Linked DNA regions of Homo sapiens: region 1 is linked to region 2. The links come from fine-mapping of genetic effects on gene expression. A gene starts in region 2. The other region holds a variant in brackets. All regions are shown on one strand. Distances are from middle to middle. Region 1 overlaps RAB1A (RAB1A, member RAS oncogene family). Region 2 holds the start of CEP68 (centrosomal protein 68).

Evidence for each region. PIP is the estimated chance that this variant, and not a neighbour inherited with it, causes the effect.
Region 1: its variant is the best candidate, but not a certain one, in a credible set for the expression of CEP68 in blood mononuclear cells (TOPMed, PIP 0.77).

Annotation. Positions count from the first base shown.
Region 1 is chr2:65,099,149-65,114,739 of GRCh38, forward strand. It overlaps RAB1A (RAB1A, member RAS oncogene family), which reads right to left. Exons shown (of 6, transcript NM_004161.5): 2 at 5,586-5,658. Among named protein-coding and RNA genes, the nearest start is that of RAB1A, 23 kb to the right of the region's middle. The variant C/T (reference allele first, on the strand shown) is at 9,011.
Region 2 is chr2:65,049,278-65,064,868 of GRCh38, forward strand. It overlaps CEP68 (centrosomal protein 68), which reads left to right and starts at 7,139. Exons shown (of 7, transcript NM_015147.3): 1 at 7,139-7,251. It overlaps LINC02576 (long intergenic non-protein coding RNA 2576), which reads left to right. Exons shown (of 3, transcript NR_183398.1): 3 at 3,103-4,465. RefSeq lists silencers at 1,192-1,364, 7,072-7,181, 7,262-7,601, 8,232-8,281, 8,292-8,371 and enhancers at 6,732-6,971, 11,904-12,405.

The DNA of each region.
Region 1 (15,591 bases), 50 kb after region 2:
TGAATAATATTACATGTACTACAAATATACAACATTTTATCCATTCATAAATTGATTTGGGTTGTTTCCACTTCTTGGCTATTATGAATAATGCTGCCATGAACATTTGTGTACAAGTTTTCCTGTGAATATATGTTTCCTGTCAATTTTTTAACCTAATGTTAAACTTTTAAAATTATAACTGCTTCTTGCAAGTACCTGCCATGAAATTTTATTCAGAATGGAATAAAAATATTTCTCGTGAAAAGATATATGAATGAACAGACCAGGCTATCATCATATGAACCACAAAGCACCACCTAAGAAGTACTCTGTCAACAAAGATGGACCTTAATCGAATCAGGTCTAATGAGAACGGCACTGCCAAACAGAACTTCCTGTGACAATGGAAAGGTTCTATAAGCTGTGCTAGCCAATATGGTAGCCATTAGCCCTATGCAGCTTGTGAAACAAGAAACTAAGTTTTTGATTTTTTCAATTATTTTTCCCCCTTAAAGGGACAGGGTCTTGATGTCTCCCAGGCTAGAGTACAATCGTAGCTTACTGAAGCCTTGAACTCCTGCACTCAAGCAATCCTCCCACCTTGGCCTCCCAAAGTGCTGGGATTACAGGTGTGAGCCACCAAACTTTTTCAATTTTAATTAATTTAAATTTAAATAGCTACATAGAGCTAGTAGCTACTCTAAGGATAGTGCAGTTCTAGGTCTTCTAATTACAGAAAGAGGGACAAACAAATAAGCATAAGGACATCACAAGGAAGCAAAATGACAAATCTAGAATATTGGACAATCTACAGGACAAGTGCTTCAGTTTCTGCAAAAAGTCAATGACATAAAAAATATATAAATAAAAAAGATAAGGTATAAAACTCTAGATTAAAAGACTAAGCAAGAAAACAACCAAATGGAAACTGTATTTTGCAGGTTGATAATGGCAATGTCATTTTATAAGAAAATGTTTTTAGAAATATGGGCCGGGCATGATGGCTCACACCTGTAATACCAGCACTTTGGGAGGCCAAGGTGAGTGGATCACAAGGTCAGGAGTTTGAGATCAGCCTGGCCAAGATGGTGAAACCTCATCTCTATTAAAAATACAAAAAATTAGCTGGACGTGGTGGCGGGCGCCTGTAATCCCAGCTACCCGGGAGGCTGAGGAAGGAGAATCACTTGAACCCGGGAGGTGAAGGTTGCAGTGAGCCGAGACTGTGCCACTGCACTCCAGCCCAGGCGACAAGGCATGTCTCTGTCTCAAAAAAAAAAAAAAAAAAAAAAAGTTATGTTGTAATTGAGTGCCTAATAAGTATCAGGTACTATAGAAGTATATAGAGGCCAGGCGCAGTGGCTCACATATGTAATCCCAGCACTTTGGGAGGCCAAGGTGGGAGGCTCACTTTAGATCAGGAGTTCAAGACCAGCCTGGCCAACATGGTGAAACCCTGTCTCTACTAAAAATACAAAAAATTAGTGGGTGTGATGGCACACGCCTGTAAACCTAGCTAGTCAGGAGACCAAGATGGAGAATCGCTTGAACCCATGAGGTGGAGGCTGCAGTGAGCCGAGATTGCACGACTGCACTCCAGCCTGGGCGACAGAGCGAGACTCCATCTCAAACCAAAAAAAAAAAAAAAAAAATGCAGAGAACAAAATGAATGCAATAAATATTCATGTAGCACATCTATCCCCCAGGTACTTGGATAGAAATACTGAATTCTTGGCCGGGTACAGTGGCTCACGCCTGTAATCCCAGCACTTTGGGGAGCAGAGGTGCACATATCACTTGAGCTCAGGAGTTGGAGACCAGCCTGACCAACATGGTGAAACCCCATCTCTACTAAAAATACAAAAATTAGCCAGGCACAGTAGTACACGCCTGTAATACCAGCTACTCGGGAGGCTGAGGCATGAGAATCACTTGAACCCGGGAGGTGGGAGTTATAGTGAGCTGAGATCATGCCACTGTACTCCAGCCTGGATGACAGAGCTAGACTCCATCTCAAAAAAAAAAAGAAAAAGAAAGAAATGCTGAATTCTTGTAAATCTCTAAATGACCTTTACTCCCATGCCTGAGCCGTTACTATTCGTCTGCCCAAAAGCCTCAGTTATCTCTCTCTGCATAACCCTACTTACTCCCCAGCCCCAAGGTCATGTGGCATTTATTCATCCTTCAGTTTTGAGCTCAGGCAATACTGAGTGTCCAAACAATTTCTTCAACTCCTCAGCCAATAGATTCTTCCCTCTGTGCCCCCAGAGCTTATTGCACATTTCTTTATTATAGTCCTCACGATTGTCTCTATTAATATTTTGAGGGTATGGGGATCAGCATTTTAAAAATAGTTTCCAGGTATTATTGGAAAACCTTTGACTTCAAGCAATGGACATCCCAGAGAGGGTTTTCCTTGAGGCACAAACGCCTGAGGCTACAGCTAGATTCTTCCCACCTACCGAGAGTTGCTTAAGAATTATGCTTAATTTTAATATTTGCCAATTTAATAAAAATTAAATGACACCTAAGTTTAACTTAAAGGCCTTTAATTACAAATAAAGTTGAGCCTTTTTTTTTTTCCATATTTATTGGCAATTTGTATTACTTCCTTTTTTTTTTTTTTTTTTTTTTTTGAGATGGAGTTTCGCTCTTGTTGCCCAGGCTGGAGTGCAATGGTGCGATCTCGACTCACCACAACCTCCGCCTCCTGGGTTCAAGCAATTCTCCTGCCTCAGCCTCCCAAGTAGCTGGGATTACAGGCATGCGCCACCACATCCGGCTAATTTTGTATTTTTAGTAGAGACAGGGTTTCTCCATGTTGGTCAGGCTGGTCTCGAACTCCTGACCTCAGATGATCCGCCAGCCTCAGCCTCTAAATGCTGGGATTACAGGCGTGACCCACCACACCCAGCCAGCAATTTGTATTACTTCTTTTTTCAACTGACTGCTCATGTATTTGCCACTATTTCCATTAGGAGAAATATTCTTTTCTTGTTGATGTGCAAATGTGCTTTATATGTTGAGAATACCAATCCTCATATATATATATTTGCTATTGCCATTAGTTTTCTAACATTTTTGTGCCTGTGATAAATTAATTTTAATAGTCAAATTTAGCAGTGATTTCTTGCTTTTTTCTTATTTTAAAAAATACCTTCACAAACCAAGATTAAAGAGCCACCTATGTTTTATTCTAGTACTCATGGTTTTATTTTTAACTGTTATATAAAAAGAATTATACATTATTTAATATTTTTTAAATAACCTTCATTAATATCGGCACTCATCAGAAAAGTCATATGTATTTAGGATACTGTCAAGTGGTAAACTCTAAGTTTTTTCAAATTCTAATTTTCCATGATAAACTTAAATTTTATTTCAGCCAACAAATGCTTGCAGCTACTTCCCTTGAAATGACTATCACAGTTCATCTGAGAAAATCTGTCAAATAGCCAATTCTGTTCTAATCTGTCTGTTAGCTGTTCTTTCAAGTTAAAAAAAAAAAAAAAAATGTCCAGGTGCAGTAGTTCACGCCTGTAATCCCAGCACTTTGGGAGGCTGAGACAAGCGGATCACGAAGTCAGGAGTTCGAGACCAGCCTGGCCAACATGGTGAAACCCCATCTCTACTAAAAATACAAAAACTAGCTGGGCTTGGTGGCAGGTGCCTATAATCCCAGCTACTTGGGAGGCTACGGCAGAAGAATTGCTTGAACCCGAGAAGCGGAGGTTGCAGTGAGCCGAGATTGTGCCACTGCACTCCAGCCTGGGCAACAAAGCAATATTCCATCTCAAAAAAAAAAAAAGAAATGGTGTTCCACAGAAAAAAATAAAGCAGTTAGCTCAGCTTACAACTCAAAAAACTACAAATGCTTTTCTTTTCTCCAAAATAACCAACACACTAGCCAGTATGCAGTAAAAAGTGCTTTCTCCAGCACTTTGGGAGGCTGAGGCACATGCATCGCTTGAGCTCAGAAGTTTGAGAGCAGCCTGTGCAACACAGTGAGACCTTGTCACTACAAAAAAATACAAAAATCAGCCAGGCATGATGGCGCATCCACTTGGGAGGTCCCAGCCACTTGGGAGGCTGAAGTGGGAGAACAGCTTGAGCCTGGGAGCCAGACGCCACTGCACTCTAGCCTTGGCAACACAGCCAGAATCTGTCTCAAAAAAAAAAAAAAACATTGTTTTATGTGAACTTCCCATTTCTTCACAAATATTTTTAAAGGAATACTCATGGATCAACATTTTTCAAAAATTAATCATTTTAACTGTTTTGTCAAGGACAATCTTCAATAAAAATGGCACGGCTTGTTTTTGTTCCTGTGAGGGCACAGAGGTAAAGAATGCCATCACCATGAGTACAATTTGGAGCTTAGCGCTGCCTTGATGTGTACCAAGCCAGCAGCAATTTTACCCACATGCTTTTGTACCAGAGCCAATGTCATCACTGAAAAACGCAAACATCTTTTATATTAGTATTATTACCAAGTAAATATTTCCTTACAAATACTAACATCTTAGTATTATTAGGATATTTTGACCTCATGGGCTACCTGAGAGGGTCTTGGTAACCCCCAGGAGTCTTTGGTCCATGCTCTGAGAAACAATGATCTCTAGAAGGGAAACATGCTAATTTGTTTTTTTATTTTTTTTCTTTTTTTTTTGAGACAGTCTTGCTCTGTTGCCAGGCTGGAGTGCAGTGGCACCATCTCAGCTCACTGCAACCTCCGCCTCCTGGGTTCAAGCGATTCTCCTGCCTCAGCCTCCCGAGTAGCTGGGACTACAGGCGTGTGGCACCACACCCAGCTAATTTTTTGTATTTTTAGTAGAGACGGGGTTTCACCGTGTTAGCCAGGATGGTCTCGATCTCTTGACCTTGTGATCCGCCCGTCTCGGCCTCCCAAAGTGCTGGGATTACAGGCGTGAGCCACCGCACCTGGCCAGGAAACATGCTAAATTTAAAGGTAGTTGATAAAGACTATGAAGGACACTGTGGATTCTGTTAAGTCAAAAGTCCTTTATCTGTCAGCTTCAGCATTTAGAACTATGCCATTGGCCAACGAAGTTTGTCCAAGACCCTACTTTTTCTTTTATTAACTTTTTTTTTCAGAGACAGAGTCATGCTATGTTGTCCAGGTTGGTCTCAAAACTCCTAGACTCAAGTGATCCTTCCACCCTCAGCACCCTGAGTAGCTGAGACTGCAGGCATGATCCACTGCGTCACCTGGCTCTGCTTTTTCTTCTTATTCTACTAAAGTTTAATTTAAAGATTTATTTTCATCAAGTCGCTTTCAACACAGGCCACCAACTACCCCTTTAACTTGCTGCCTATATTGGAACTGCTGTTTGACTCTGACCAAAAGTATTAGACATTCTGACTTTATAACCATACTTCACTGAATTTCTTTTAAGAGCAACAATATTTTTCTATTTAACAGTCCAAGATACCACTGGGGATGTATATTTGGAGTCTTTAAATATATAAATTCTGGAAGAATTAACTTATTCTGAATAAAACTGTTTAATTTTATCTACCTAGAAAACATACATAGCATTAATTGTACCATTAATTGTAAAGACATTTCAATTTCAACTTACTGCAAACCTAAGAAGAAGGCAAGACTTTCCAACCCCTGAGTCGCCAATCAGAAGTAACTTGAATAAATAATCACTGCAAAAAGAAAAAGAAAATGATGTTAATAAAAAGCACACTGCATTGCTATAAGCTATACAAAAACAAAAACACAGCTACAAATAACAACTCACTGTGAAGACTACATCTCCTATAAAGCCCATGCATGGCTTAAGCCAAAACTGCAAACAGCCACAGCCCTTCTGACAGATCACTAAACATGATAAAATTATGTAAAAAGTAGGCAATGCCACCTATGATCTCTAACATCAGTGAACTTCCACTTAAAAAGAAAGAAGGAAAAGAAAAATAAGTGATACGCACTCTTGGACTGCCCAAGATACTTAAAACATTCTAAATAAATCCCACTCCTCTATAGTATTAGAATACAGAAAGGTAACTTTTCATTGTTTTTGCCCATGAAATATTAGTCTCTCCTTCAAATTCTAAGATCAGGCCAGGCGCAGTGGCTCACACCTGTAATCCCAACACTTTGGGAGGCTGAGGCAGGCAGTTCACTTGAGGTCAGGAGTTCAAGACCAGCCTGACCAACATGGTGAAACCCCGTCTCCATTAAAAATACAAAAATTAGCTGGGCATGGTTGCGCATGCCTGTAATCCCAGCTACCTGGTAGGCTGAGGCAGAAGAATTGCTTGAACCCAGGAGGCAGAGGTTGCAGTGAGCCGAGATCGTGCCACTGCATTCCAGCTCCAGCCTGGGCAATAAGAACGAAACTCTGTCTCAAAAAAAAAAAAAAAAAAAAAAAAAAAAATTCCAAGATCAAATAATTTCATAGCACTCCTCCAATGAAGGGGTTCTCACGATCCTTCTCTAGCATCCAGCTTGAATTCTCCCGTCAAAACAATGTTCATATAACTTCTGAAAGCCCATATTATAAACTAGAAATGTGATAAATTCACAGGCTGTTTATCCAAGTGCAAAACTTGACTAACACTCTACACTTGTATTAAAGCATTTTTCAGAACCATTGAAAACCAAGCTTTTTTTTTTTGAGACGGAGTCTTGCTCTGTCACCCAGGCTGGAGTGCAGTGGCGCGATCTCGGCTCACTGCAACCTCCAACTCCCTGGTTCAAGTGATTCTCCTGCCTCAGCCTCCCGAGTAGCTGGGATTATAGGCATGCGCCACCACGCCCAGCTAATTTTTGTATTTTTAGTAGACACGGGTTTCACCGTGTTGGCCAGGATGGTCTCGATCTCCTGACCTCATGATCTGCCCGCCTCAGCCTCCCAAAGTGCTGGAATTACAGGTGTGAGCCACCGCACCCAGTGATAAAACAAGGCTCTCTTTATGTATCTCTAACATTGCCAGGCCTAACTCAAAAACTATCCCCAGAGATTCCTTCATGGAACTAAGACAACATTATTATTCACCCACAGTCTCCAAGGAAATCCCTCATAGATCCTTCCCAACTCAGACACCAGTTCTATGCATTCTTTTAAGCAATTTCAAAAGGACAAAAACCTTAGAATTTATATATCGTTTTTGTAGAAGATATACATGATTTTGTATTTTGTCCTTTTTGATTTACTTTCAAAAATATGCTAAAGTGAAAACCACGTCACAATTTAGATTAAAATTATTTACATGTAAACAAGACATAAAACTTATTTTTTTTGTTTTAATTGCACTGCCAAAGAAGAGAGGATATAAAACTTCTATAAGCGATTATCTTTGTGAATATTCAACTATTACGTAGGTTTACATAATGATATGCATTACTTAAAACATTGTTTGGGTTTTAGCAAATTACCATATTATACTTATTGTTATACTTATTGTCTTTAATTATATATGAGGAAAATAATTTTTTAAAAATCCCAAGTGCCAGTCAGCAGCAAAATAGAAGTCAGAGAAGGAAACAAAAATCTTCTAAACAAGTAAATCAGAAGAGGGGACTGAAGCATAGAATGAACTAGACATCCTTTCCAGTTTGAGATTTTAAAATTTTTAAAAAGATCGCTATTGTAGAATATTATCCTTAATAAATGATTGATACCTAATACCAACAATTTGTACTTGGCAGTTCAGCTGGCTGACTTTACTACTATTGATAAGGTTCCTTCTTAATTAAACCAAATATTCTTCTTTCTTTTTTTGAGACAGAGTCTTGCTCTGTTGCTCAAGCTAATTTTTGTACTTTTAGTAGAGACGGGATTTAGCCATGTTGGTCGGGCTGGTCTCCAACTCCTGATCTCAAGTGATCCACCCGCCTTGGCCTCCCAAAGTGCTGGGACTACAGGTGTGAGCCACCATGCCTGGCCCCAAATATTCTTTTTTTGTTTGTTTGTTTTGAGACAAGAGTCTCGCTCTGTTGCCCAGGCTGGAGTGCAGTGAAGCAATCTCAGGTCACTGCAGCCTCCACCTCCCAGGTTCAAGCAATTCTCCTGCCTCAGCCTCTGAAGTAGCTGGGATTACAGACATGTGCTAACACACCCAGCTAATTTTTGTATTTCTAGTAAAGACGGGAGTTTCATCATGTTGGAGGCTGTTCTCAAGCTCCTAACCTCAGGTAATCTGCTCACCTCAGCCTCCCAAAGTGCTGGGAGTACAGGCATGAGCCACCGTGCCTGGCCCCAAATACTCTTAAGAATACTGAACACTGAACATTAACAATGAGTATATGTTAAGAATTTACCTGTATGAAGAAAGGAAGACTATCACAGCATTGATACTACCATAGTAGGTTGGTTTTTTGGGGGGTGTTGTTTTTGTTGTTAGACAGTCTCACTCTGTCGCCCAGGCTGGAGTGCAGTGGCTCGATCTCGATTCACTGCAACCTCTGCCTCCAGGTGTTCAAGTGATTCTCAGGCCTCAGCCTCCTGAGTAGCTGGGACTTAGTAGGGAGGTTTTTAAACAGAAGTTTCAACACAACAACTGGACTCAATGTACCAATCTCCCTGAACTCCACGCCAGGCATCCAGTAAACACTCAAAAACATTCCCTGAATTTGCTGTACTGGAGCCAGTTGAAGTAAAGGACTGTACTGGGCCTCAGATGTTGCCTGAAGTATCACCTTAAAGATCAACAACCCAGGCTAGGCGTAGTGGCTCATGCCTGAGGTCAGAAGTTCCAGACCACCCTGGCCAATACGGTGAAACCCCATCTCTACTAAAAATACTAAAATTAGCTAGGCATGGTGGTGGGCAGCTTTAATCTCAGCTACTTGAGAGGCTGACCCATGAGAATTGCTTGAACTCAGGAGGTGGAGGTTGCAGTGAGCTCAGATCACACCACTGCACTCCAGCACGGGCAAAAGAGGAGTCTCAAAAAAAAAAAAAAAATCAACAACTCTATTTCAGAGCAACCATAAAGCTTTAAAAAACATGAACGGGGGCCAGGTGCAGTGGATCACCTGAGTTCAGGAGTT[C/T]GAGACCAGCCAGGCCAACACGATGAAACCCCGCCTCTACTAAAAATACAAAAATTAGCTGGGTGTGGTGGCAGGCGCCTGTAATCCCAGCTACTCGGGAGGCTGAGGCAGGAGAATTGCTTGAACCCAGGAGGCAGAGGTTGCAGTGCGCTGACATCACACACTCCAGCCTAGGCAACAAGAGCAAAACTCCATCTCAAAAAAAAAAAAAAAGAAAGAAAGAAACATGAAGGTTTCCTAATTGCACTACAAGTTACATTATGGTTTCAAGAAATTAATAGTCAATTCTTTTTAAATTACCTTTTTCAACCACTACATTTTTTTAAGTTTTACAAATATAACACTCTTATTTTAACGCATTATGGCTGGGCACAGTGGCTCAGTGAGCCTGTAATCCCAGCACTCTGGGAGGCCGAAGCAGGTGGATCACCTGAGGTTGGGAGTTCGAGACCAGCCTGGCCAACATGGTGCAATCCCGTCTTTACTAAAAATACAAAATTAGCCAGGCATGGTAGCGCATGCCTGTAATCCCAGCTACTTGGGAGGCAAAGGCAGGAGAATCACTTGAACCCGAGAGGCGGAGGTTGCAGTGAGTCAAGATCACATCATTGTACTTCAGCCTGGACAATAAGGGCGAAACTCCATCTCAAAAAAACAAATAAAAAAATTATTTATGAGTTTCTAATAATTTAAGGCTTAAATTAAAGCCATTATAAATAATATGAAGAATTGAGTGCTCTGTATAAGACAATCTTTGCAAAAGACTACTGGTTCTCTCGCAAACCATTTGTTTACTAACATGACAACAGTCACATGAGAAAGGCAAATAAAATCAAACCCACAAACTTCCCCACCTCCCCTTATCAAAGACACACACTTGAATAGCGTGATCAGTGACACGTTAACTTGCATTGGGACATTTTAAATTACCTACTACAGAAGTAGTTTATTTCTCAACTGTAAATATACTGAATATTCGTGAGAATTCATTGTTCTGAGTTTGCTTTAAAACGTTTTTATAATTTACAAAACACCACACAGTAAAAATGTTGATAGAAAATATACAAATATAAAATTACAGAGCACAAGGACAGAATTTTGGTACAAAGAGCCAAGACTAATTTAGCAAATGGTAAGACTTTAAATGTATTTATTCTTCATTCCTCATGAATTTGGATCACTAAGTTTTTATCCTACAATAATATAATTTTGACTTAAGTGAAAAAAACTAAATTATGCTAGTTTAGAAACCAATAAAAATTTGGCTGGGCGCGGTGGCTCACACCTGTAATCCCAGCACTTTGGGAGGCCAAGGTGGGTGGATTACCTGAGGTCAGGAGTTCAAGACCAGCCTGACCAACATGGTGAAACCCCGTCTCTACTAAAAAAAAAAATACAAAAATTAGCTCAGCATGGTGGCAGATGCCTGTAATCCCAGCTACTTGGGTGGCTAAGGCAGGAGAATCACTTGGACCCAGGAGGCGGAGGTTGCAGTGAGGAGAGACTGCGCCATTGCACTCCAGCCTGGGCAACAGAGCGAGACTCCATCTCAAAAAAAAAAAAAGAGAAAGGAAAAAAAAGAAACCTATGAAGATTTACAATTGTCACCCTCGTAAATTATTCTAGTAAATCCTATCCACTGTTTCCAGTTCAGAACTTCCTCTAGCTTTTTGTAGTTCTAATCTACTATAACCTCATATTTTCTACCCTCGAGAAGTTTGGGGTCTGTGTTTCTCCACCCTTACGTTTGACATAGCTATCTGTGGGTGTGGAAGGTAAGCTGACTTACTCATCTACGTATACAAGGATCTAGCACTGTGCCTTTTACAAAGCATGTGCTAAGAGATCAGAGAACATTTTAGTTTTACATTTTTAATCAGGCCTCTTTCGTTGTGAGATACAGCTACAGAAAATTTGTGCCATCCTTGATTAACATTTTTGGCCAAAATATTAGGGGGAAAAAATGATGACAGCACCTCATGTTAAAAGGATACAGGAGCCGGTCGGGCTTGGTGGCTCACGCCTGTAATCCCAGCACTTTTGGAGGCTGAGGCGGGCAGATCACGAGGTCAGGAGATCGAGACCATCCTGGCTAACATGGTGAAACCCTGTCTCTACTAAAAATACAAAAAATTAGACGGGTGTGGCGGCACACGCCTGTAGTCCCAGCTACTCAGGAGGCTGAGGCAGGAGAATCGCTTGAACCCGGGAGGTGGAGGTTGCAGTGAGAAGAGATGGCGCTACTGCACTCCAGCCTGGGCAGCAGAGCGAGACCGTCTCAAAAAAAAAAAAAAAAATGGCCAAGCCAGAACAATTTGAGGCACAAAATAAATTAAGTACGTATTAGATTATAACTCACAAAATAAATACTCATGAATTCATAGCAGTATAAATGATTATAAATGGGAGGGAAGAGACAAGTCAATAACACATGCTGAAGAAATGAGAAAAACAGAAAATGACCAGTAGCACTACATTAATAATTGCTGCAATGCTGGGTGTGGTGGCTCACACCTGTAATTCCCACCTACTTGTAAGGCTGAGGTAGAAGGATCACATGAGGCCAGAAGTTCAAGACCAGCCTGAGCAACATAGCAAAACCCCCATCTCTAAAAATATTTTTTTTAATTAGCTGGGTGTGGTGGTCTATGCCTGTAGTCCCAGCTACTTGAGAGGCTGAGGCAGAAGGATCACTTGAGCCCAGGAGTTTGAGGCTGCAGTGAGCTATGAACTCACTACTGCATTCCAACTTGGGCAACAGAGTGAGATCCCATCTCTTAAAAAAAAAATTAAGGAAAAAAGAAAAAGAAAAAATAATTGCTGCAAGGAAGATTTACTGGATAAATGCTAAATTAATGGATAAAACTAAGGAGAAACAGGATATCTGCATGACCTCACCAAAGTATATCCCTCAAAATATTGGCCAGGCATGGTGGCTCACACCTGTAATCCTAGCGCTTTGGGAGGCCAACGCGGGTGGATTGCCTGAGCTCAGGAGCACGAGACCAGCCTGGGCAACACGGTGAAACTGCTTCTCTACTAAAATACAAAAAATTAGCCAGGCGTGGTGGCACATGCCTGTAGTTTCAGTTACTTGGGAGACTGAGGCAGGACAGTCACTTGAACCCCGGAGGTGGAGGCTGCATTGAGCCAAGATCATGCCATTGCACTCCAGCCTAGGCGACAGAACGAGACACCATCTCAAAAAAAAAAAAAAAATACATCAGACAAATACAAACTGACAGACAACTGACGGACATTCTATAAAATACCTATCAGCACTCTTCAAACTTGTCAAGATAACGAAAAAGAAGGAAAGACTGAGAAACTGTCACAGATTGAAGGTGGCTAACATGGCCTACAACTAAATACAATATGGTATACTGAATTAGATCCTAGAACAGAAAAAGAACATTAGTGAAAAAATTAGAGAAACCAGATTAAGTCTATAGTTAACACTGTACCAATGTTTATTTCTTAATTTGGACAAATGTACCATGTATGTAAGATGTTACTATTAGGAAAAGCGGAAAGAAGGGTATACAAGAACTCCACATTGATTTCACAATTTCAGTAAATCTAAATTTAGTTCAAAATAAAAAGGGTTTTAGAAAAGGTTTTTATAAAGGTTAAAAAATTATGAGGAGGCCAGGCGAGGCTCAAGCCTATAATCCCAGCACTTTGGGAGGCCCAGGCAGGTGGATCACCTGAGGTCAGGAGTTTGAGACCAGCCTGGCCAACATGGTGAAACCCTGCCTCTACTAAAAATACAAAATTAGCCGGGCGTGGTGGCACGCACCTGTAGTCTCAGCTACTCAGGAAGCTGAGGCAGGAGAATCGCTTGAACCTGGGAGGTAGAGGTTGCAGTAAGCTGATATCGCACCACTGCACTTTAGCCTGGGCAACAGAACAAGACTCCATCTCAAAAAAAACAAAACAAAACAAAACGAAAAATGACAAACAATCACTTCAAAAATGCTAGCTCATGATTTTTTTTTTTTTTTTGAGACAGAGTCTTGCTCTGTTGCCTAGGCTGGAGTGCAATGGCATTATCTCAGCTCACTGCAACCTCCACCTCCCCCGGGTTCAAGCGATTCACCTGCCTCAGCCTCCCTAGTAGCTGGGATTACAGGTGTGTGCCACCATGCCCAGCTAATTTTTGTATTTTAGTAGAGATGGGGTTTCACCATGTTGGCCTGGCTGGTCTCAAACTCCTGACCTCAAGTGATCCACCTGCCTCAGCCTCCCAAAGTGTTGGGATTATAGGCATAAGCCACCGTACCCAGCCACTTATGATATTTTTAAACAATATGAGAGACATTTCATGTTTTCTCAAGTTAAATCTAATCACAAATTGGGCTGGGTTTGTAAAATAAAGCTGCTTTTGAGGTACAAGTATTTCTATTAGTGAAAAATTCTGTTGAACTGCTTGAATTTTATAATACTACGAGCAGATATTTTATTTTAATTTAAAAAGTTCACTCTATGAGAAAGCTAAAAACAGTTAAGGTAAGAATGGCATAGAATAAGCCTGGACAGAAAGGAGGAGGCTGAGAGAAATTAACAGTAGGCTTTAACAACTGGATGGTGGGCATGAAATACAGCAACAAGAGAAAAATTATTTTTGCTATCAGTTTTTCCTATAAGTCAACTTTTGGTCTACTTTCGCAATATTGGAGGTTCCAACAATAAAACAAAAGCAATAAGGTACAGTAAGGACGAGTTTTATTCTACTCAGTTTGCATGAAGTTAAATGACTGATGACAGGGCCAGGCACGGCAGCTTGTGCCTATTAATTCCAGCACTTTGGGAGGCTGAGGCTGGAGGATCATTTGAGCCCAAGAGTTCCAGACCAGCCTGGGCAACATAGAGAGAAGCCCCATCTCTTAAAGAAAATTAAGGAAAAAATGATCAATGACAGGATATGTGGATTTTTGCTAACATTAGAATTGTCTTTTGCTTAACAGATGGGGAAAAATTGAACTATACATTCAATTACAAATCAGCAAGAGGGCCCACCCCAGAACCCTTGTTTCAAATTTCAGTTTAGAGTTCAATTTCCATTATTTGTTTGCGTGCAAAAATGGCATCGGTACATATATGTACATTTATGATCTGAACATAGTCTTGATGTCCGCTGATGTATGTACCTACGCCATTTTTGTATGCAAGCACTACCATTTTCTATGCCTTTAAAAAAAGCCTGGTGCAGTGGTGCACACCTGTAGTCCCAGCTACTTAGAAGGCTGAGGCAGGAGGGTAACTTGAGCCCAGGAGTTCAAGGTTGCAGTGAGCTAGGAATAGAACCATTGCACTCACTCTAGCCTAGGCAACAAGAGTGAGACCCCCATCTCTAAATAAATAAAATAAAAAATATAAAAATTAAAAGTCACTACTGTGAAAGCATGGAACAATATTCTTTAAATAAAAAGTTAGAAAAACAGATTTTCAGTTCAAAATTCTATTTAGGTAAAATTCTTTTCTTGCCTAAAGTACAAAGTAGAGGATGAATCAGCTTGTTTCTGAATCTAAAATGCTACTGGAAATTCTAAAACCTCCAAAATAACACTGTTATGTGAAAGGAATATAGAATTTTTTAAAGTATAACCTCATTTTTGTTTTTTAAAAAATCTTTTGAGGGGCTGGGCATGGCTAGCTCATCTCAGCACTCTGAGAGGCTGGAGCAGGAAGTCTAAACTGTAGGACTATAATGGATTGACGGTTTCTTCTTTATACCTTTTTAACAACCTGCAGTAAGCTTGTATGACTTTTATAACCAGAAATAAAAAATGTTATTTGAAAGGAGGAGAAAAGCGTTTTATTCAATGACTTAACACCCTTACAAATATGTTCAGCATATGTCAGCACAGCACACCTATCATAACACAAATTACTTCTAAGTAGGTAGAGTAGGTCAGGTTGTAAACAGACAGCAATGGCATACTCCCAATACAGCCACAAGTATATGAAGTTAAATTCTGGGTTAAATGAGAATATACTGTTTTCTTCTTTCATGAAATAAAATTTAGATTCTCAGACAAGGTTCACATGTCAATGAACACTTTACAAAAGAAAGCTGATTGACATTAACCCAACTTTCAACATTCCACCCTTTGGAAACATGCTAAGGAAGAAAAAAAATCTAACAGCAGAGAACTATAGTGTATAATTGTATTTGTACAAACAGAAATACAAATACAAATTTATAAAAACAAATATAAATTTTATAATATCAGCTGTAAGTACCTTAGAAAAGGCCTATTTATAAAGTTCAATGGAAACTAAATTCATTCTCTTTCATCTAGAATGGATTCATTTGCATGACAGGAATTCTTATGGTTTAAATGTATCCTCCAAAGTTCCTGTGTTAGATACTTAATCCCCAATACAACAGTTTAAGGGGGGCCGGGCGCGGTGGCTCACGCCTGTAATCCCAGCACTTTGGGAGGCCGAGGCGGGTGGATCATGAGGTCAGGAGATCGAGACCATCCTGGCTAACAAGGTGAAACCCCGTCTCTACTAAAAAAATACAAAAAATTAGCCGGGCGCGGTGGCGGGCGCCTGTAGTCCCAGCTACTCGG
Region 2 (15,591 bases):
TTTATTACTTACAACTAGTAAAAAGAACACTGGGTATAGATAGCTCCCAAAGCAATGCCTCCCTGAGCTCCAGGCTGTGTCAGGTTTTATAAGCATAGGGTAATGAGGCATGATCTGACTGGATCTTGCAATGAGGTAATGCCAAGAGGCATGATCTCACTGGATCCTGCTAATGAGTGATGCCAGAGCTCAATCTGATTGCATCGTAGATCCAGCCATGCAGTGTCAACTTCCTAATTCAGTCCCTGCTCCTCTGAGCACTTAGGTTCCCCCCTGTGGCTACACACTTGGTTCACCTGGGCCTGCTCAGGTTACATGACCTGAAGCTCCATTAGCAACTGAAAAACAACTCATAACTTTTGTTACATAAAAGTTGAACCAAACTGGTCTGGTGCAGCTACATAATATCCCATATTCTGGAGATGATTACTTCCTAATGGTGTTCATCTTATACCAGTATCTACTGTATTTCCTGTAAGCAGGAAGTTAGGTTAAATATTTTTGGAAAGAATTCTACTTAGGAGGCACATGTCTGGTAGTCCCATTATTGGTGATGTTTGATCACTTGGTTATGGTGGTAATTGTTTGATCTTTCCATTATAAATGCATAATTTCCCTTTTGTAATTAGTAAATAATCAGTGGGGCAATACTTGGGAGTCTGTGTGAATACCTTGTTCCCAGAAACTTTTTTCCCAATAGTTTTAGCATTCATTAGTAATCCTTATCTTGGTTAATTGGTTAATTATTACATTTGAGTTTCCAAAAGGGTAATTGTCTAATCTAACATTCCTCTTACAGTTATCACTCTGTAAAGATGAGCTTTTCTTTTTCTCTCTTTGTTTTCTTATGTTTTGTTTGAGATTGACTATGGACCATGATTTTCAAAAAATTATTATATTATAATCAATTATAATTATAGATTACAAATATTTATTTTACATTAACATTTAATACATTTATTATATATTTATATATTATGTTAAACATATTTATTATATAGTACTATATATTAATATACTTGTTAATATATTTAATATATAAACATATTTTAAATATAATCATATATTAAGCATATATACTTAACTATATACCTAATTATGTTGAAGTTAATTATACATTTAAGTATATAATTATCTCAAATATACTTAAATACAATTATACTTAAAATGTAATTAAATCGTAATTAACATTATTTTTTATTTGCAGATTGTCCCAAATTTGGCCAATGAAAAAGTCCTTCAAGGCCAGGTGTGGTAGCTCATGCCTATAATCCCAGCATTTTGGGAGGCTGAGGCAGATGGATCACCAGAGGTCAAGAGTTTGAGACCAGCCTGGCCAACATGGTGAAACCCTGTCTCTACTGGAAAAAAAAAAAAAAAATTAGCCGGGTGTGGTGGCAAGTACCTATAACTCAGCAGGCTGAGGCAGGAGAATCACTTGAACCTGGGAGGCAGAGGTTGCAGTCAGCTGAGATCATGCCACTGCACTCCAGCCTGGGAGAAAGAGCAAGACTCTGTTTCAAAAAAAAAAAAAGAAAAAAAAAAAAAAGTCCTTCAAGTTGACTTCTATATCTTTTTTTTAAAAAAAACAGCTTTATTGAGATCTAATTTCCCTACCATACAGTTCACCCATTTACAGTACACAGTTCTATGGTTTTAGTTTATTCAGAGTTGTGCAAGCATCATCACAGTCAATTTTAGAACAATCAAATTTAGTTCATTACCCCTAAAAGAAACTGTTACCCATTAGTGGTCACTTCCTATTCCCCTCAACTCTTGCAGCCCTAGGTAACTGCTAATCCACCGTCTCCATAGATTTGCCTATTCTGGATGTGTCATACGAATGGAATCATCTATGTGGTCTTCTGTGACTGGCTTCTTTCACTTGGCATGTTTTCATGGTTCACCCACATTGTATAAAAATGTCCGTCTACATTCTGTAGCATTGATTTTACTGCCATTTTAACATTCCATATTATGGATATACTGTATTTTACTTACCCATTCATCAGTTGATGGGTATTTGGGTTGTTTCCACTTTTTGGCTCTTGTGAATAATGCTGCAATAACCAATCATGTACAAGTTTTTGTATGAACATACGTTTTAATTTACCTTGCATACATATATAGGAGTGGAACTGCTGGGTCATATGGTAACTTTATGCTTAATCTTTTGAGAAACTTCCAGACTGCTTTCCAAAGGGGCTGTATTATTTGACATACTTTTTCTTTTTCCTTTCTTTTGAGACAAGGTCTCACCCTGTTGCTCAAGCTGGAGTGCAGTGGCACGATCACAGCTCACTGCAACCTTGACCTGCTGGGCCCTAGCGATCCTACCATGTTAGCCTCCCAAAGAGTTGGAATTACAGGTGTGAGCCACTGTGCCCAGCCTCCATTTGACATTCTTACCAGCCATGTATGAGAGTTCCAGTTTCTCCACATCTTCATCAACACGTTACCTTTTTTATTATAGCCATCCTAGTGGCTATAATTGTGGTTTTGATTTGCATTTCACTGAGGCTAATGATACTGACTCAGTGTTTCTCAAGGTACCTTTGGTCCCAAAAATTCATGTTTTATTTTATATCCAGAAAACTATCTTCAGTTATAGCTTTCTTTCATTGTTATGTTTCTTTTCTTTGGAGACTTCAATGATGCATATGTTAACTTCTGTCTATCTTCTATATCTCTCACTTTTTTTCTAATATTTTTCCTTCTTTTCCAAATTTGTTTTGGGTTCTCTTGGCTGTTTTAAATTTATTTTCAATGTTCCTTCTTGACTTTTAAGGCTAACCTATTTTCCCGTGGACACAATGTAATTTAGTTTCCATATCTCAAGATTATTTTGGCTTTTTCTTCTACTTCTTTCCTGAATTTCATCAGTTCTCATTTTATAGTTTTCTGCTTTGTGTCCATTTCTATTTTGAGTTTTTTAATGTCTGATTTTTGGTATTCTTTATAGCTACAGCTGCTTACTAAATGATATTTAATTCATATGAAGAATACTGTTAGTTTTCCTCTGCTTTTTGGCTGTTGGATGGAATTGTGGTTGGTGGAAAGAATTTTCATTAGTTAAAATGGTTTTTAATTTTTTTCTTGTAGTTACTTTATATGGATGTTGGTTGCTGTTCTGTTTAGTTCAAAATACCTCGGATCTGACCAGGTGTGGTGGCTCACACCTGTAATCCCAGCAATTTGGGAGACCAAGGCAGGTGGATCAACTGAGGTCAGGAGTTCAAGAACAGCCTTACCAACATGATGAAACCATCTCTTCTAAAAATACAAAAATTACCCAGGCGTGGTGGTGGGTGACTCTAATCCCAGGTACTTGGGAGGCTGAAGCAGGAGAATCCCTTGAACCTGGGAGGTGGAGGTTGCAGTGGGCCAAGATCGTGCTACTGCACTCCAGCCCCAGCTGGGTGACAGAGTGAGACACTGTCTCAAAAACAAAACAAAAACAAAAACAAAACAACCTGTCAATATCACTGGGGAAAGAGTTTGTCAAACTCCAAGGCAATTTTCAGTGAGAATGACACTAAGTTTCAGACTTCAGGGCAATAGGAATGATGTCAGACTTCAATTACATTCCCCATGAAGAACCAGACAGCTAGAGTGTCGCTATGTACTTTTAAAAGATGACTGAGGATGGAGACAAGTGAGTTGGCAGACAGTGGCAACCTCTGGAAGACAGAATCTTCTCTGCTGGTTCCCAGGCTGCTGCTCCGAAAGTCCCAAAACACGCACCTGGCCTCTCCTGCATTCCCACTGGCTGCACCTTGCTCCTGCCCAGAATGAAATCTGGCTCCTGGCCACCAAGCAAGAAGCCACCAGCTGACCAAAATTTTTAATTAAAAAAAAAAAATTAGTTCAAGTGCCCACTGGGAGACAAAACTCTGAACCAATGACCAATAGTTTCTTCCACAGCAGAATATCATTGCTGGTAACAATGGGTGTGGTATTTCTCAAATCATACCTAATGATTCTTCTCAAAATTTATACTTTGCTTTTCCTCAAACCAGCTGGTTTAGATATTTTAGTACAATGCTTTCACCAGAACCTACAACAATGGTTCCTATTAACTGAGAACTGAAATTGATGTGGTCTCCTCATGCCACAGGTCACATGTTGTTTGGTGACTGATTTTGACTCTCAGGAGGAAGTGGGGTTGCTGTTACACCACGGAGGCAAGAGGAGCAGTAATAGAACACAGGAGATCTCCTGAGGCACCTCATCACTCTCATGCCAGGGCACAAGTTGATGGCAATGTACTGTACCACCTACAGACAAACTACAGACAACCTACCTACAGGCAACCTCCTCAAGAACAAAAGCTTGCTTAACCCAACCAGGCAAAGAATCCTGGCCAGCTGAGGGGTTGCGTGAAGGAAAGAGGGACCTGGAATGGTTAGCGGAGAAGGAAAATTGTAAATGACAATAAAGCTTCATTACCAGTTACAAAAATGAAGATCGTAACCTCTAACAGTATTTCCCTTCTTGCTGTATTATATATAAATGGAGTTTTTAGCTATTGTCCTTTTCTTTCATTTCCTTTCTTTTCACAATTGTATCTAAAGTCTATCAGTGATGCTTAACTTTACAATTTAGTCTACACATTACAACGATGGGATGGGATGATGATGAAACTGAAAGGAAGAATGGAACATCACCTACAGAAGTTAGACTTGGGCCAAATACAGTAAATGAGGAGATTTTGAGATGCCCTGCTTTGGGGAAGGGATAAGTAAATTTTGTTATAGGAGAGATGCTCGCATTTTGTTGGATGGCAGCATTTTCATTTACCTTTGAAAGCACTTCTGTGAATGTTGGGCAGCCTAAGAGACGGACTATAGTGAAGCAACTTTTGGCAACCCAGCGTCTCATTCTTCTTATTTGAGGGGAGGCCCCCACACACTGAGTCTTGGTATGAGGCTAGGCCTCCCAGACTAGAAGCCACAGTAGAAACCAGAACTCTCTTTGCCTATTGGCAATCAGAACACAGGCACATAACCTAGACTAGGCCAAGTAAATGGTCCTTCCCAAAACTTGAATCTTAAGTGAGAAGAGTTGAAAAATAATTCATGTCACCACCAAAGGAGCTGGTACGCACCCTAATCAGAGTACCAAAGCAGGATGGCTTAGCTGGTTCCTAACATTTCCAGGCCTGGTTCTCCAGCATTGCTGCTGCAAGGAGTATAACTACAGACAGCTCTAGGCCTACTTTTCCCGCGCTCAGAAACACCAAAAGAAAGAGCCTCTTTCTCCCAGCCTCATTCTCTAAAATCCCCGACAAGGGCTCAGATCATCTCAGGTTTGGTCATGTGCGCATCCCTGGGGAAATCTGAAAACAAGAGGAGGGAGACTACAGCTGGTCAGGCCTGGGTTCCACACCTCCCCTTCTCCACACCCATCCTGCCTTGGGAGACCGGAGAAGTGCGGTGCTAAAGAACCATCTGACCCAGCGGACTGCAGACAATTCCCAAAGGAAAGTTTTCCCGTCAGGCAAAAACAAAAGCTGCTCACAACACAAAATTACAGAACATCAGAACCAAAAGGAACCTTGGGACTCCTTCATCCTATCCCCTCTCTTTATAGATGAGGAAACCATACAGGATATGTACGCCTGTTTGGACTTTGTACAGTTCTCTGTCCAGCAGGGGTGACTTGGCTGTGGGATTAGGTGACTCCACTGGAGGTCTTCTGTGTATAGAAAAGATCAAGGGTCACAAACACAAATGCCTTCAGGTAGGCAGCAAATGTGTGAAGGCTGGCTGTTACTTAATGGACCAGTGGTGGTGGTGGGATTCAAATTCTTATTAAAAAACAAAAGCAAACAAACAAAGAAAAGCTATGCGATGCCCAAATAAAACCATCTGTGGGCTAGCTGCTGCTGTTGTCCAAAGTTTGTGGCCCCTGGGTTAGACAAAACCTCTGAGCTGTCCTGACAGGTCTGGGAAAACCAAACAAGTCCTTGTCTCCTAAACTACCTGGGACTCAAGAGCTCTGTAGGAAAAAATTTGTACCCTGCACCCAGCTGGGGTTGACATTTACAGACGCCTGTTTTATGAACTGGGGAGATATTCAGTTGAAGCCAGATTGCTGAAAGTGCTGCTGAGAGAAAATCATCAGAAGGGAGGGCCTCTTCCCCACGCCACCCTGGTGGTAGTTCCTCTATGCCTCCGGATTCTGCTAAGCAGTAAAAGCTAAAGGGCAGTGTCATTAAGCTCCTAGGGGATGGGATGCAGTGGCTCACACCTGTAATTCCAGCACTTTGGGAGGCCGAGGCGGGAGGATCGTCTGAGTCCAGGAGTTCAAGCCCAGCCTGGGCAACACAGCAAGACCCCATCTTTGCAAAATAGATAGATAGATAGAGATGTATGAAAGTTACTAGGTCCCATGCTGGCAGGGGAGAGAGTGAGCACCCTGGCCTCCCACAAGCTGCCTCCCACTTCCCTCCGACTCCATCACCGATTTCCCATCAGAGCAGGCTGCTCAGAGTGGCTAAGTAGCTACCAGTTCATTTTCCACACCCTTCCCATTCTCCACGAGCCAGAGCTCCACCTCCCCCCAGAAGCTGTCTTCAACCACCCGGCCTGGGGAGCTCCCCTCAGCACTGGCTCCCCGCCCCGCCTCGCAGCACCTGTTCGGGCCTCGGTCGCGCCGCCGGGTCTTGCAGACGCGAATGTAAACAGAAACACAGTGAAAGGCGTTCGGAGAGCCTCGTGACTGCGGCACGGCGGCGAGCCGGGAACATCAGTGCGTCCAGAGCAAAATGAACGAATGTACGCATGACTCCTGGAGCGACCTTCACGAGGGAAAGCGCGCCCCCCGGCACCCACCCCTAAGCGCCCCAAAATGACCAGCCTTTACACAACCCAGCTCGCAGGCGAAGCTGAGGTCGGAGCTCCAAAAGCGAGGGAGGACAGCCGCTGAAGAAGTCCCGGCTTCCCATAGGCCAGGACGAAGTAGGGGGCGGGCTCATCTTGCAGGAGCGTCCACGTATTGGTGGAGCCGCGGACTTAGAGCTGCGATTCGCTGCGCGAAATTGCCGAAAGCCCTCCCGCGGAGGGAGAAGGGGCGGGAAGAAGGGCGTGGTCAGCGCGGCCGAAGGGCGTGGTTGGCGCTCGGTCCTGCCCTGCGCGTTTTGGGCTGCGGTTGGAGGGCCGCAGTTGCAGTCAGGGTCCGCCAGCTCGGGGCCAGCGCATGGGGCTGCTGAGACCGCTCCGGACGTGCGAAGCGTTCGCGGTGCGGTAGGTAGGCAGTGTCCCGCGTGCGGGTGCTGGTGTCGGGGGTGCCGCGGCGCTGGGGGCGGTGGCCCGGGCTAGATCCGCGCGCGCGCCCGGCCCCCTCCCCCGCGTCTCTTCGGTGCCTGCGGGGCCCTTGCGGTGCGGGCCGTCTGGCCTCGCGTCCCCGCCGGCAAGGGCACAAAGGCTCCCTGGGGGGCGGGGGCGCCTCGTGCCTTCGCCTCCATCTTGCGAGCGGAACGGCGTGTGCTGTGGCGGCCGAGGGGTCGGGGCCGAGGCGGGCGGCTGGGCTTGGGAATGCCCGGGCGCGGCGAGGGAGTGCGCGAGTCCGCGCATCTGGCGGCCGAGCAGCTGCGCCGCTGGTCGGCCTGGGCCCCGGGGGAGGTCACTTTCCCTCAGGCCTCTCCCGGGCGTGGGCTGTTTACCCAGCTCCCCAGTCGGGGCTAATGCAGCTCGGGCCTTTCCCCCTGGAAAGATGGAGACCAGTGATGTCTTCTTATCGCCGCGCCCAGATGCGGAGAGAAAAAATCAAGATGTCTCATTTTTTTTGCCTCGGAGGGCTACCCTTTCTAACTGTCATCACTAGAACAGTTCTCAGCAGCCTGGGGACGAATGTCCAAAACCTGTTCCAGGCCCTTGATGATTAGTAGGTTGGGTTTAGTGTATTGTTTGTAACAAAAATGAGCGGAAGCCTGCCAGGGCAGATTGGACCTCACTGGGAATTCATCAGGACCACGAAGGGAGGTAGCGTTTGTAAATAATCTAACAGTTCTCAGATCTAGGGTATGAAGAGTGTTGTGTTAAAGTGTGTAACAAAGGTTGTTGGGTCAGTTTGCCTTGGGTTTAGTTGAAAGATCTAGAAGTCACCACTTTTTACTTTGTTCCCTCCATTCCCCTTTCCCACCCTCTGTTGAGTCAATTCTGGCCCACTTAGAAAACAACAACAACAAAAAACCCAAGGAATTCAGTTTAACCTCTTTTGCGCAAAGCTTTTTAAAGCACTTCCCCACCCTGCGACTGATAACTCCTCCCTTTTTTGGGCTACCTTCTGCAGCCTCTGTTTTTACTCATCACACTGTATTGTGGTTTCCCCAGCCCCTAGCACAATGCTTGGAACATAAAAGGCACTCAATGATGGAAGGAAGCCAAAAGGAAACAAAATCAGCGTGGTAGTCTAAAGGTGACACAACAGAAACATTTATTTAACTTCTTGAGCGAGTTATTCTTACAGGTTAGGAAGGCAGCTAAGCTCAGGCTCTCTAAGTCAAACAGGCTTTAGCTCTGCCATGTTACTAACTCTGATTAATTTTTTTTTTAATGGTGATGGGGGTCTTGCCATGTTGTCCAGGCTGGTCTTGAACTCCTGGGCTCAAGCAATCCTCCTGCCTCTGCCTCCCAGAGTGCTGGGATTACAGGCGTGTCATTAAGTTATTTAACTTCTCCGTGCCTTGGTTTCCTCATCCTTAAAAATGGGAATAATAGTAGTACCTGTGTGGTGAGTTATTAGGATTAAATAAGATATTGATGTATAGTGCCTAATATAGTTCCTGGCACAAAGAAAATGATCAGTAGCTGTTAGCTGTTAGCAGTCGTTAGGAGAAAAATAAATGGATACTTGAATACACTCACCAATATGAAATATCTGTATAGTACTTGACCCTTCAGGATCTCTCTGTTTTTTGGTCCTTATCCGATCCCTTTTTTTGAGACAGGGTCTCACTCCATCACCCAGGCTGGAGTACAGTGGCATGATCTCAACTCACTGTGGCCTCAACCTCCTGGGGTCGAGTCCCTCTCACCTCAGCCTCCCAAGTAGCTGGGATCACAGGTGCACATCACCAGGCCCAGCTAATTTTCTATTTTGTTGTAGAGATGACGTCTCTCTATATTGCCCAGGCTTGTCTTGAACTCCTGGGCTCAAGCGATTACTGGCATGAGCCACGGTGCCTGACACCTTATCCGATGGCTGATTTTTTTCCTTTTTTTTTTTTTTTTTTTTTTTTTTGAGAGGGAGTTTCACTCTTCTTGGCCAGGCTGGAGTGCAATGGCACAGTCTCAGCTCACTGCAACCTCTTCCTCCCGGGTTCAAGCAATTCTCCTACCTCAGCCTTCCGAGTAGCTAGGATTACAGGCACCCACCACCGTGTTCCGCTAATTTTTGTATTTTTGGTAGAGACAGGGTTTCGCCATGTTGTCCAGCCTGGTCTTGAACTCCTGACCTCAGGTGATCCACCCACTTCAGCCTCCCAAAGTGCTGGGATTACAGGCGTGAGCCACCATGCCCAGCCTGATGTCTGATTTTTAAACATCCCTTTAGCCTTTCCTGATTCTCTTTCCACAGTGAAAGTATTCCGTAGAAGATTATCTGTTTATGTGTCTGGAGTCTCACCACCAACTAAAGATTGATTTGGTGCCAAATAGCAATTTGGCCAAGAGTTACAGTAGTACTTGATACATTCTTAACGGGGTCTGTTATCTGAAATGGTCATGTAAAATCAGAGGAGCTAAATAGATGGGGGCCTCATGTGGCTGACAAAAAATCTTTACCTGGTTGATCCATCCAGAAAGAAGCAGAGCTTATGGAGGTGGACTCTCCTTATAACTTAAATCTGTTCTCATGAAGAAACTGTCTCCTATCTTTAATGTTGTTCACCAACATCATGAAAAGCCCAAGAAATGTTCCTGTTGGCTTTAGACCTGTCTGCCAGCTAGAAGTGTCAGATACAACTCCTGGGGGACACTGCGTCACTTCCAGGTTTTCCTGCACCACTTTCTGGTTACAGGAAACAGGTTAAGTTGCACATTTCCTTGTAGCTGTAAGCTCCCTTGGCATATTGGTTTCTCTTAAATTATTTCCAGTTTCCAAAACAAATACCTTTCCCCTCCTCACTTGTAACTGGCACAGGAGAAATTCAGGTCTGTGATTCTGTTTTTAACATAGCCATCATGAATCTCAAATTCTTTCTAGGGAATACTATTATTTCTGGGGACTCCCTTTCAGCTGTGGTATTCTATAATTAGCCATTAAAAACCTGCCACAAGGTGTAAGCCTTTTCTAATGTCCTGTTGCAAAGGCCTTGAAGACAAGGGCCATAAATTTTCTTCTTGTGTGTGGCTGGCATATAGGCACCCAAGGAATGGTTGTAAAGCTATTTTAGTTGTTCCTTCTCAGGGTGCTGAAACAGCCTTACTTACCAACCCAGTGCTTCTGAAACATTTTTCTTACCAAGTCATCTGGAGATATTGCTAAAATGCAGGTTCTCATTCCAAGGTTCTGGGGCAGGACCTGAGAATCTGCATTCCCAACGAGCTCTGAGGTGATGCAGATGCTGCTGGTGCTGGATCACACTTTGATAGTGAAGTGCTAACCCTAGTATCTACATTTGCTTTTTAGAAGTATTGGGTAAATGGGTTTTATTTTCTTATGGTATTGGAATAAAATCTTGGGTTTAGGAGCTTTTTTCTATTTTTTGTTTTAACAATTTCTCTATCTTGTTAAAAAAAAACTATTTGAGGAATTGTTCCAACATACTTTGATGTAATAAGATTTTTAATAACAGCAATTGAGGCACATGGAGTGAAAAAAAAATAGGAGAAAGTCAAGGAAGAAATTAGCACAAAAAGGCAAGTACCTCTCTGTCCTATGCCTTTTACTCAGGTGAGATTGTGTATTTGGCCCTGAGCTTTGTAGCAGCCAAAGCAAAGAGGGAAATTTTTTTTTATCAGTTTTGCCAGTACTTATAAAGTGAAAATGTCTGCTGAATGGAGACAGCTGTTTCTGTTATTGAGGCCAGAGAATTCTCCCATGGCTTCTCCAAAGAGAATGCTATGGTACAGTGAGTGGCAATCTTAATAGTATCTCTTGAGAGCGGTAAGATTCTTCTCAGTCTTCATACGTGCAGCCTGATGACCTCACAAAAAAGTGTCAGGGCCGGGCACAGTGGCCCATACCTGTAATCCCAGCATTTTGGGAGGCCAAGGAGGGAGGATTGCTTGAGTTCAGGAGTTTGAGACCAGTCCGGGCAACATAGCGAGGCCTCGTCTCTTAAAAAAAAATAAATGAATAAAAATAAAAACTGTCAGTATAGTAAAAGCAGTGGTCTGTGGAAATGCACCCATGTGGTCCAGGTACAGCCTCTTCTGACAGTGACTTTTGTTATAAGGAAGGTGTTTTTCTGCTTTGCTCTTTAGTGAGAAAAAAGGTGCTGTTGATTGACATATTCAGCCCTCAGCATCCTTGTACATTGAGCTTTGTTACACATGGACACTCTGCTGACTGCTGAGGAGGCCAGAGAGCTTGGGGTTGAGGGGAGGAGTAGCTGGGACTCAGTCAAGCTCCTTGTAGATGTGACTTACATCTCTTTAAAGGCTATCTAGGTTGGGCGCAGTGGCTCACGCCTGTAATCCCAGCACTTTGGGAGGCCGAGGCAGGAGGATCACATAAGGTCAGGAGTTCGAGACCAGCCTGGCCAACATGGTGAAACCCTGTCTCTACTAAAAATACTAAAATTAGCCAGGCGTGGTGGTGGGTGCCTGTAATCCCAACTACTCAGGAGACTGAGGCAGGAGAATTGCTTGAACCTGGGAGGTGGAGGTTGCAGTGAGATAGCACCACTGCACTCCAGCCTGGGCAACACAGCAAGACTCCATCTCAAATTAAAAAAAAGAAAAAAAAGGGCTACCTAAAGACCTTGCCTTGTAAATGAGAACATTGGCCTTGCTGGGAGGCTGTCTGGTAGCCCTGGTCAGTCAGCCAACAGATAAGTGAGTGAGAAGGCGAGGGAACAGACAGCCAAGCAGCCTAGCCCACAGCCCTCCCTACCGCATTGATCTACAGGGACCCACTGGCTCCTCCTAGGGCCCTGGGAGATTCCTTCTGTTCTTTTGACTCTAAGCAAAACTTCCAGAAGCAGCCCTGGGGAGAAAAGAAGGGGCTCCCGGTGCCCAAGGATCCTGGGGATGGCCTCGGCCCATGGCCAAGCCACAGCAGACACAGTCTACCCTCCGTAGCTTTGAGTCTTTTCTTCATTTTCACTTTACTTTGATTTTACCTGCAGAGAAGGGGGACAAAGTGCTCAGAGTGACCTATCCCACAGTGAAAGACAGGGCTGGTGTGGGGGACTGTGGGGCTCCAGGGGGACTTCCCAGCAGGGCAGGAGCAGGTGGAGCAGCAGTTGCTCTTTGCTGCTGGCCTCCCAGTCTCAGGCCTCCAGCCACAGTTTTCCTGGCACCCACGCCACCCTGAAGCAGGCCTCAGTCACCTTTTGTGACTGGCCCCTTTGTTGGCTTCCCCTACGTGTCTTTACCTCCTTTCATGTGACCTCCCATGCCTGCTTGGCCTCTGCCTTTAAGCTCCTTTATTCCATAAATCTAGTTCCCCCAGAGTTCTTCCAGCAAGCTCTGCTGGGTCCTGCCTTCTGTTTCCTTGTGGACAGTTTCATGTTATTGGAGAAAGAGCAGCATGGAAAGCCTCTTTGGTTCTCTGGGCAGGTTCTGCCACTGTGTGTTCATGGCAATTATCACTTATTCCTGTGGCCTCCTGTGAAAACAGGTTTGGAGGTTTTGGCCCTGAACTCATAGGGCTTGCTCAGTCTAGCAACACCTGGCCTCTGTGGCTGGCACAGGTGACTGTGCGCTCAGGTAAGAGACGAGCCCTTGCCAGAACAGAGCTCCCTGGGCAAAGTTGGTATAAATGAGATTGTTTCAAAGGGAGCTCACGACTTAAAGAGTCCTGGCCAGGTGCGGTGACTCCCGCCTGTAAGCCCAACACTTTGGGAGGCCGAGGCAGGCAGGTCACTTGAGGCCGGGAGTTCGAGAGCAGCCTGGCCAACATGGTTAAACCCCGTATCTACTAAAAATAGAAAAATTAGCGGGGATGGTGGCACGCACCTGGAGTCCCAGCTGCTTTGGAGGCTAAGCCAGGAGAATTGCTTGAACCCGGGAGGCAGAGGTTGCAATGAGCCAAGATCTCGCTGCTGTACTCCAACCTGGGCGACAGAGTGAGACTCCATCTCAAAAAAAAAAAAAAAAAAAGAGGCGGGGCGTGATGGCTTATATCTGTAAACCCAGCACTCTGGGAGGCCTAGGCGGGTGGATTGCCTAAGCTCAGGAGTTCGAGACCAGCCTTGGCAACATATCGAAACCCTGTCCCTACTAAAAATACAAAAAATGAACCACGCATGGTGGTGCACGCCTGTAATCCCAGCCATTTGGGAGGCTGAGGCACAAGAATCCCTTGAACCCGGGAGGCAGAGGTTGTAGTGAGCCAAGATCGTGCCACTGCACTCCAGCCTGGGCGACAGAGCGAGACTCTATCTCAAAAAAAAAAATAGTCCTAGGGGAGGTCCTTTTTTGTTGAAAGGAGGATTGCTCTCTAGTTGATCATTCATCTGTTTGAGGGGTTTAGTCAAGAGCAAGAGCAGAGCCTCACCCCTCCCACAGTTCCCAGTCCTCCTCTCTCCATCTTGGACAGAAGTGAGTGGGAGGAAGCCCGGCAGCTGTGACAGGAGTGTCCTAGGGTGATGCAGCATATACGAAGAAGGGTCAGATGTCCAGGCTTAGAGTTTGTGTTACCACATGCATGATTTGTGGGCGTATTTTTACTGTAGGGCAAGAGTAAGCCAAGCCTACATCACTCCTAATTATATCTGGTGGATCATACAGCCTCTTCAGGTTCTGGAAACTAACAGAATTTTAATAGCAAAGTCCAGATGGTCCCTAGAATATCCTGAAGCTTATGTGGCTTGTCTCTTGGTTTGACAAAGGACAAGGCAGTTCTGTTGTGTACAGACCTTTCTCAGAGGGTAAGGTTGAGTTCACTGTCTGTGCTCTGATGTCTCCTGTCATTCAGTCCAACCTCCTGGCACTTCCTTCATTTGGGAGGCGACGGGGGCCTGTGCCCCATCATGGAGCTGCTAGCCTCCAGGAGCACTGTAAAATGTGTGATCCGAGAACGGGAGGCCCCACATTAGGAAATTGTTTAAAGCTGATGACCTGGGAGACTGTGTGGGTCCAAGACAACAAGCGCTATTCACCAGTCTGAGAAGGATAAGCTGCCTCTTATTAGAAGTGCAACCTGAATCTATCGCCCCCACCCCTACCCCAGAGGGTTAGGAGGAATGATGTGTAAAATCTCGGATCTATGGAAATGAAGACCAGACCTTCATGCAGTGTTACAGATGGCCACCGGCCAGATGCAGACAGGGTTGAGTCCTAGGAATCCAAAACTTGTGCGTTTATCATAGCCTGGGCCAGTGTTTTCTTCGGCATGATTGCTGTTTTAAAAGAGGTTTGTCTTCAGTCATTACTTCAGGAAGTTTTCCCCTATTATTTTTATCCCAACTGATTTCTCCCTTTCGTTGCATTTTGGTAACATTTCATAGACAGTTTTGAATGCATTATAGATTGGTTTTTATTTTCTTTCACATGTGTCTGTCTTGGTTCTCATAATAAACTTGTATAATAGGGGGGAAAAGCATGATTTGTCAGGCAGATTAATAAGATTATGAAGGGACTGTTTATCCAGTCTAAGAAAGTAACTACCTTCATTCCGTCTTTACAGACGTACAATTTCCTTGAAAATCATTGAATTTCAGATCTTCTTACCTGGTTGCTGAAGGGACTTTGGCCACACTACTAACCTAGTTTAGGTTTGTGTGTATCCTTGTAAGTTACTTAGGGATGTCAACTGAATAGTTTGTAATAGCTCACCACTCCCTATCTCTCCAGGCTAAATAGATACCTTCTTTTTTGAATAATGAGGTCCAGACAAGATGAATAAAAAGTACATGATCAAAACAAAGGGATAATTTGTTTGCACCCCTCCCTTGCCCCATCATCATCTTATTCCAGCACCTTGTCTCAAGATCGCACCCTTTAGTGAGAGGTGTGGGGAATCTCTAGCCATTGAGAGAGTTTTTAGAAATCGAGCAAGAGGCCGGGCGTGGTGGCTCACACCTGTAATCCCAGCACTTTGGGAGGCCGAGGCAGGCAGATCACGATGTCAGGAGATCGAGACCATCCTGGCTAATGTGGTGAAACCCCATCTCTACTAAAAATACAAAAAATTAGCTGGGTGCGGTGGTGGGCGCCTGTAGTCCCAGCTACTCGGGAGGCTGAGGCAGGAGAATGGCGTGAACCCGGGAGGTGGAGCTTGCAGTGAGCTGAGATAGCGCCACTGCAGTCCAGCCTTGGCGAAAAAGCGAGACTCCGTCTCAAAAAAAAAAAAAAAAAGAAATGGAGCAAGAAGTAGCAATTGGGAATTATGGGCTATACCCAGCCTTCACCCTGGTTTTTCTAGCTCACGGGCGCAGCTGTTCCCCTACTTATGAAAACAAAACTTGCCTGTAAA